Linked DNA regions of Homo sapiens: region 1 is linked to region 2. The links come from fine-mapping of genetic effects on gene expression. A gene starts in region 2. The other region holds a variant in brackets. All regions are shown on one strand. Distances are between the middles of the regions.

Region 1 (4,391 bases), 600 kb after region 2:
TCATTCAAGTTAAACAGTACTCTATAGGGTGAATCTCTCAAAACAGAAAAAAACAGGACAGGATACCAGGTAGTATTTTCTTGGAAGCAGTATTGTGTGTGGATTGGGAGGCCTGTGCTTGAATCCCAGCTCTTATACTTCCTCTCTGTGGGGTTTTTGCAAATTTCCAGCCCCTGCCAAGCTTCATTACTGCCATCAAAACAAATGGGGTTAACAGATCTAGCACATAACTGGCACTCCAGAAGTGAGTGGAATATAAAATTAAACATGGAAGGAAAATCAATAGCCCTTGTTACATATAAATTTTAAAATATTATGTATAATATTATATATATTGATATTATATATAATTATATATTATATATAAATGTCATATATATATCCAAAAGCTTTCAAAAATAAGAACACCATGCTTATCTGTCATTGTACATTACTAAGAGCAACTTCAGAGCTCGTGGGTTCAGATGTTTTCAACCTGGGGCCATGCACCTCTATGGGTTCCATAGATGTGCAGCCTTCCAAGGTAAGATGTTATCTGTATCCTTGCCTTCCCAGTATTTATTGCTCTGTCTTATGGTAACAATGGCCTAATTTTCTTTTGGGAAACCACCCCCATTCTGCTCTCCACCAAGATCAACTGGAGCCCACCCACTCCATGTAATAGTGACAAGCATGGGGCCAGCCGAGCATCCAACCCTCTACCCACAGGGGTTGTGTTGGGGCTGGGCCAGACATTTACCAGGACCATAAAAAAAGGTTGTGCTTTTTCTATTGGGGTTGCTAGGTGGGTAGAATACCAGCCTGTGCTGCTGATGGACATCTCTGCCATCACTGGGAGAGACCCTTCCTAAAAAGAAAGCCAAAAACTCAGAGAGCAGAGGCAAGATATAGACCTAAGTTCCTCCTGGCATCTTTGAGCTCCTGGTTCAGCATGTCTAGGCCACTTCTACTCCAGGATTTATGAGGACCATGAACTATTACATTGCTTTTTGGTAGGTGCCAATTTGAGCTGGGTCTCTGTTACTGGTGAAGAAAAGAATCCTAACCAATACAGGAAATTTCATCAATTCCTTGAAATATATGCAAATTTTGCATAAGTATGTTTATTTTCCTGGAGAGAAGGAAAACCCATTCTTAATGGGCTTCTGCACTAGAAAAATTAAAACTGCCTGTTCTAATCCAATGCCCTCATTTTACAGATGAAAAAGCCAAGACCCAGAGAAAGAGTCATTGCCCCAGGTCACATAACAAGTGGGTGACACGGACCGGAACCCAGTTCTACTGACTCTCGTCCTCACCAGTGGATCCCAACATCGGACCCCCCAGCGGCATCACCGGGGTGCTACTGACCATCACCTGCTCAGGTTCTCCCCTAGATCAGGTAAGTCAGAACATCTGCAGAGCAGATTTGAGCACTAGTATTCTCAAAAGCTCCCTGGAGGACTCACATGTGCAGCTAGGGTGAGAACCCTTTCTTAGGATATGAAAACAAAGATGAAGAAACACAATCCAACTGATCCAATACTCATAAATTAAAATTAAACAAATACCTAACATCAAATATCTTATACCACTTGAACACTGAGCTAGGTGTGGGGGTGCAAAATTGAAAAGGACACAATACCTGCCCTGAAAATAACTTCCTCTCTTGTGTAAAAGAAAGTAAGAACCATCCATCAAAGAAAGTGCTGCATTTCATCAGCCGCAGAATGGAATTCTTGGCAGCCCTGCCTTCAAATCTCAGCCACCTGCCTCTCTCTTCATCTCTCGAATTGAGTAAACAAGTCCTTTAGAAGACACAGTCAAGTATTTGCGTCTGTTTGAAATAGTCCCCTTTAGGGAACGTAAGGCATTTAAGTATATTTACAAAAATTCCTCTTGAGGAATGCAGTATATAGATAAGTTCATTCCTATATTTTTCAAAGGAGATGCTACTGTCATGAGGTCTTTTTACATCATCTCCCTGAACTGTCTCACCCTATTTCCACTCGATTTTCCACCTATTACAGGAATTGTCATGTGTTAAGACTTCAACCCAATAAGTATTTACGAATCCCCTCCATGTCCCAAGCTCTTTGCTGAGTGCTTGGGGATGGAAAGGATAAACAAGGATACCAAAAGGAAAAAAACAAAGTTACTGCTTTCAAAGAGCTAACAGTCAAATGAGGGACAACATGTTAGTATTCATTTCTAACAAAAGCAAGCTGTGATAAATGTTTAATTATGGTTATAACTCCACTTATTAAGTGTCTGCCATGTGCCAGGCACCTTACTAAGTACTGTACATACCTTATGACATTCCGTTCTTATGACCCCACTGTTGAGTAGCTGTCATCTATCTGCATTCCACAGGTAAGAAAACAGACTTGGAGCCACCTACTCATCTACCCAGTCTCAGCTAGTTAGCAGCAGAGCCATGATTGGCTGTTGGGTCTGCTTAATTCCAAACAGGTCCTGAGC[A/G]CCCCCAGCTGAGTACGGACTACATCAGGATCCAGGAAAACCAGGTTCATGATGGAGCCTCACTGCACATTTCTCCATACTGGAATACAGACGTGAAGATAAGAAACAAGATTCCTGCCCTTAAGGAGCTCATGTCTAGGAGGGAAACTCAAACAACAATTTTAGGGAGTGTTAATCACTTTTTAAATCAAATAATTGGTATCATAGAAAATAACTGGTACTGGGGAAAGCATAAGAAATCGTATCTGGGGAAATTTTTGAAGTCAAGATCGGCAGAAATGGATGAAAGAAATAAGGTGAGGGATCTAGAAATTGGGAGGTAGTTGTAGCTAACAATGCTAACACCTCTCACCTGCAGTCTTCTCCAGAGGATGGCCCTTGGACAAATTGGAGTCATCTCACCTGGAGATCACTTTGGTGCAAAGACAAAAGACACCCCACCCCTCAACCTATAATAAATACATTACTGAGTCTTATCAAGGTAAAGTAACTTGTCCAACGTCATGCAATCAATAGGTGGTGCACCTGGAATTCAAACTCCCAAGCTGGGCCAGCACTCCTGGGACACGTTTGTTCCTCAGCCTGCCTTGTCCCATCGCATTTGATAAAGCCACACTTGAGAGGGAGTGACATCATCTAAGCCATGGTAGTATTTCTGGAGCCCATGGAAATGCCTGAACCCTGCCCCATCAATTACCCTTCCTGAGTAAAGAAGTCCTAAAAGATAGATCTACAAGAAACAGTGGTCATATAGGAAACAAAGGAACAAAAAACCTTTTCGTTATTAGGTAAGCCAGCAACTGGCACCTGAATTCAATCTTCCCTGGTACAGGTGAATTAAAACACACAGATTAGACCAGAGGCTAAGTGTAGCCTCTCTCGCCCCTACCCCCGCCCCGGCCAAAAAAATCCAATTTTGACTCTTCTCACTCTCTCCTCCATATTTAAGGTGCAAAAATGTGGGCTGGCACTATGTTAGAAGCGGCTTCATTAATACTGCTCCCCTAAATGGAAATGATAAAATTTGTGAATGAGGTTGCCTGCCAGCCTTTTCTATCTGGCACAGTTGTGCTGTCCAATACAGGAGCTATTAGCTACATGAAGTTATTTAGATTTGGGCTTAAATTAATTAGAATTAGATACAATTGAAAATTCAAGTCTTCAGTCACATTAGCCACATTTCAAGTACTCAAAAGCCGCACACAACTAGTGGCTTCCATAGCAGACAGTGCAGATGTAGGCAATTTCCACCACTGCAGCAAGAGGACACAAGAGAGAGAAACAGAGTGGGGAGAAGAGTCTCAGACCCTCTGTCTCAGAGGGTCAGGCAAAGCTCAGTTTACCCAACCAGCTCTAGTTGCAAAAGGGAAGTGTGAAGAGGGACATGAGAACCAGTCTCTACCCTTCAACACAAAATGAACCCACCCAGTGGCACTCGTGAGTATAGCCTAATCTGTACTTCAGGCTCCAACCAATAAATTCACATTTCCCCTCAAGGAGGAACAGAGGTAGGGCAGGCAGCAAAGGATCTGGTACCACTTTCAAGGTGTATATGATACTCCTATTAACCAAAAAATCAAATTTAAGATAAAGGAATGATCTGCAGCCTGGAGTAAGTTCATTTGCCATCCAGAATAAATACAAAATTCTGGAGAAGACTGAACTGATTGACCCCATTAGGGTTAGGTGCCCAGCTTTGGATTAGTCACGATGGTGAGGTTTTAAGAACCTGGCATCCAAGCATGTGGCTGTGTGATTGAATCATGACTACTACTTACGTACTTCCCTCTACAACAGACAGACAAAAAAGCAGGGACTGCTACACTGAGGCCTTATCCCTCACTTCCCTTCTTATGTTTGTAAGTCAGCCCTGGCTGGTTTGTCTCTGGCCTTTGAGATTTTTGAGAACAAATATTCTGTTTCCTTCCTTC
Region 2 (4,391 bases):
CATTCCGAATATCAGCCTGTGATTTAAGAGAAAAATGTTTCAGTCTGAAGTCATCTAAACTAACAGTAAGACAAGATTCTGAGCAGCACCTCCTCCTTCCTTCACATGTGAGAAATATACTTCTTATAAGAATTACTTCTATGAAAAGTAAGTTTATCAAGTTGAATACCTAAAAAACACTAAATGGCAACATTTCCCCAGTAAATATCTGTTTCAAGTAACTGGAAGCCATTAACACTGGTAAAAACACAGAATCCAAAAGAATTTTGGACGTTTTAGCAACACAATACTATGGCAACACGGCAGAGAAAATAATTCTGACTTTTAAAATAAGATAACGCACTGTACTTTCAGTTTAACTGTTCCTTAATTGAGTACAACCTAACTTTGATTCAGCTACTTTATTAGGAAAAATGCACTTGAGTCCACAGTCCAGAATATTTCCAATGCCACGGATCTCATGCAATGTATGAAGAAATTTCTTTCACAGAGATGACAGCCCAGCAGGCAATAAAAGATACATGTAAATCATCAGGCACAGGAGTACAAACTCAACTGCAGAACTGTTCAGAGGGCATAGAAATAAAACTTAATTTTTTTTCTTTTATTTAGGAATGCATGCCCATTCACTTTTTCACAAGCCCATTTTATTAAAGAAATAAAAATAAGCCTGCAATTAAAATAAAATGAGGGAGCTCCATAAGTCTATTTCTGTTCAACAATTCAAATATTCTTAAATTCTTGGAGACAGTAAAGAGTCTCTCCTCCACCATCGGTCAACCACACACACACTCTACTCTGAAGAACTGGTTGAAACAGGCAAAAACTGGAGGTCACTGTTTTAAAATATAGGTATCTATATACAAATAGAATATGTCTGCCTCATCTTTCACTTCCAACAATAAAAAAGCCAGGGCGAGCACTAAGAGCAGCAGATCCGATTCATCTAGGGAACCACAGACTGTCAGTGCACAGTAATTCCTGCAAAAGGTAACAGATCTGACCAGATCATGTTGCTGCCATTTCCCAGAGAAAAGACAGACCAGTGGCACCCACACCCATCTTCATCTGAAACACATATTCCAGGAAAAGTAGGAGACTGCTCCCAGGAAGGAAGGCTTAATTTACCGTGCATGCCAGCAGATGATTCAGGAAGCCACAGGAGGAAAAAGCCAGGGGAACACTGTCCCGGGTAGGCGTGCCTCCAGAAATCTCTGTATCCCTGACCCGCAGTACTTCCTAGGATCTTTCACACCCTGAGCTGGCTGGAGTCGTGTGAAAATGGCAAGGACTCCCTTCACCACTATTCCGAACCTCAAGCCAGCCACCAATGAGGGTCACCCAACCCAACGCCCTCCGGAACGGTGCTCTTTTGCCGGCCTCTTCTCCCCTACTGACTTCTCCAAGGGCCAGCCTGCAAGGCTTGGCATGGGCTGCCCATCCCCTGGGAGGGCTGACTGCCCCGCCAGGGCTGTTGGAGCCTGGACACAGGAGAGACAAAGGGCTGGGAGGGGGAACTGGGCTCCTCCCCTGGGACCACGGAGCTCCTCTCCTCTCAGGTGCTGGGGTCTGACCCCAACCCTCTTCCAAGGTCCCCAAACTTCGCTAACAATGCAAGCACCTGTTCCCTTCACCTCTTCTGCATTTGAGTCCCTCAAGTCCTTCCATTTTCCTCCAGCTTTTTCTCCAGTACCTTAGACAAACCAAACGCCCTACTTCCCCGAGTCCAACACGCTCCCCTTCCATGACATAATTCAACCTCGTTCCCAACGAAGCCCCCAGATGGTCGCTGTCCCCCACCCAGAAGTTTCCCCTGGGTGTGCCCGAGTCCCCAAAGATTTCCTTCAAGTCTCACCCATGCGCCCCAGCCTTCTCCTTCCAAGTCCCCAAAATTCACATCAGGGTCTTCCCCTAGGTGTCCCACAGCCTCCCAGGTCCCCGTGCAAACGACCCCGGGGGCCACCCGGGCCTCCGTCTCCGCCGCGTCCGCTGACAGCAGAGGGCACGGAGGGGCCCCCTGGGCCCCCGCGTTTCCACCCGGCCCCCAACCGCCGCCGGCCGGCAGTTAACGGCCGGCGCCTCACCTTGGTTCACCAGGCGCAGGGCGTGCGTGAAGGAGGGGTCCAGGGAGTCCTTCTCCGCCATCAGCTCGGGCAGGTACTTCTCCTCCATGCTCGCCGGCCGCCGGGCCCGGGATGTGGACTCCAGGCGCACGGGGGGCGGCGCCCGGCAACCCCCGACCCCGCCCGCGCCCCCAGCGGCGGGGACCCGGGGGCCAGACGCGGCAGCAGCGGCCAAGCCGGGCGGTCGGCCGGAAGGCGGCGGCGGCGGCACGGGGGCGGGAACCGACCGCTCAGCCCCGATCCCCGGTGGCCGCCGAGTACCCAGCGCCGGCGGCCCCCGCGCTCCGGGCGCGGGCCGAGGAGGAGCGGGCGCGGGCGGCGCGGTTAGGCGGGCCCTCGGGCCGAGCGGGCTGCGGCGCCCCTGAGGCAGTCCACGGCGATCCCCGCCAGTCCCGCCAGCACCTGCCAGCACCCGAGCCACAGCTGCGACCTGCACGCCGCGCGCCGCCCCGCGCACTCTGAGCCACCGCGCCGAGCGCCCAGCGCCTGCCGCCGGCCCCGCCCCGCCCGGCTCCGCCCCGCCCCGCCCCGCGCCCGCCGCCCCGCCCTGCCGCGCCGCGCCTGCGCACTGGCGCCCACCGCCCCGCCGCCCGCCGCCTCCTGGGGCCGCTCTCCACTGCGAGTCCGCCGGGACTAACCGGGCGTTTGCGAGAGGGGGTGCGTCCAAGGGCCCCTCCCGCGTGTCCGGCGCCCACCTTTGGCCCTGAGGGCCGAGTGGGGAGCCCCACGACGCTATTACAGCCTTTCAGATGCACGGACTGGGAAACTGGGGCTCAGAGAAGTCAAGTGGCTCGCCCAAGGTCACCCAGCGAGTGATCCTGGGAAGAGGGGACAAGGGCCGAGCTGGAGCTGGGAAGGGCGCCCCAGTTCGCCCCAGTCGCGCTCTGAGGAATAGCAGCGGGACCGCCCTGCTCTCTAAAGCTTCCTGGACTTCTCTAAGTTATGTCGCGTTGCTGTCCCCTCGTACTTATAAGAGAGTAAGGCAGGGGCGCCGTCCTTTCTCCGCGCCTGAGCTCAGAGCGCCAACCTCCTGAGATCCGCCAGCTCAGAGGTCGGTTACATAAAAGCGCGTGCCCTTCTGGGCGTCTTTGTCATCCCGACTTGCTCCTGGGTTGTCATTCTCTTAGGTCATAAACCGGCTGTGCCTGGACACAGCTGAGTGAGCCGCGTCTGAGCTCATCCGCTCCTGGGGAGAGGCCCTGGGACGCCCCGCCTGTCGGTGGCAATGCTCTCTGTCCCCTTCCGCCCACCCCCAACCCCCAGCAAATGCTCTCCAAGGCCATTTCAGATTTCCCGAGGCATGTGGAATAAACGTCCCCCAGGAAGGCGAAGGACTCCAGTCCTTGCCCTGCCATTTTTCCTGCCTTCAAACAGCCAGCTCAAGTCCCGGCCTCAATGTCACCTTCCCTGGACAGCCTCTCAGGACCTCCCTGGCAAAGCAAGTCACAAGTCCCTTCTCTGTGTCCCCCCAGCTTGGTCAGAGGTCATTCACAGACAGCTGTAATTCTGTTTTCAGTAGACCATGAGCATCAGGGACAGAGTTTGAGTTTTGTTTTTGAGGGGGAAGGTCACCAGTGTGTAGTACAGGGGGCAGGGATGGAGGGTACTGGAAATGTCTCTTGGAGGAATAAGTCAGTGGCATACCACTCTCAGCCAATAGCCTGAGGACAATCGCCACAGTCCCCCAGGCAGCCCCCCCGCACTCCCAATGCAAATGGAGGCAGCTTTACAAACCCGAGGGGAGTGGGAGGTGGTAGAAATCTTGGAAGCTCTAAGTCCCAGACCCGAGTACTCAACTGCCCTCACTCTCAAGGCTCCACTCCTCCCCCGGCTAAGGTGTCATTTCAGAGTCCCCAGTAAGAGTCTTCTTCATGGCTCTCTTCAGTCTCAACTTGCAAGAAGCAGAAAAATGGCACAGTTAAAAGCAAAGCCTCTGGGGTTAAACAGCCTGGATTTGGAATCATGGATCTGCTGCTCACTAGCTGTGACCTTGGGCAAGTTTCTTCACCTCAGGGTCCTCATCCGTCAAGTGGAGATGACAACCAAACTTATTTCATAAGAAGTTCATGAGAATAAATATGTTAACTCATAATGAAATACCCAAAACAGCACTCTGCCTATCGGAAATGCTGAGCTGATCTTTGCTTTGGGTTTTTTCCGGCTGCAAGGCTGTCCTCTGGGCCTTCTGAGCCTCCCTCGCCTTCCCTTCAGCTGTAACTCCAGGGATGCTGGGCAGACACCCATCTGTGGACTCCTCACTGCTGGTCG

Evidence for each region. PIP is the estimated chance that this variant, and not a neighbour inherited with it, causes the effect. A credible set is the group of variants that fine-mapping cannot tell apart.
Region 1: its variant is the best candidate, but not a certain one, in a credible set for the expression of KHDRBS3 in lung (TOPMed, PIP 0.78).

Annotation. Positions count from the first base shown.
Region 1 is chr8:134,856,161-134,860,551 of GRCh38, reverse strand. The region is part of intron 1 of LOC101927845 (a long non-coding RNA gene); the gene reads right to left. Among named protein-coding and RNA genes, the nearest start is that of NCRNA00250, 20 kb to the right of the region's middle. The variant A/G (reference allele first, on the strand shown) is at 2,461.
Region 2 is chr8:135,455,648-135,460,038 of GRCh38, reverse strand. It overlaps KHDRBS3 (KH RNA binding domain containing, signal transduction associated 3), which reads right to left and starts at 2,583. Exons shown (of 9, transcript NM_006558.3): 1 at 2,085-2,583. The coding sequence starts at 2,172. It overlaps LOC101927872 (a long non-coding RNA gene), which reads left to right and starts at 2,064. Exons shown (of 4, transcript XR_002956731.2): 1 at 2,064-2,157. RefSeq lists a silencer at 2,412-2,711.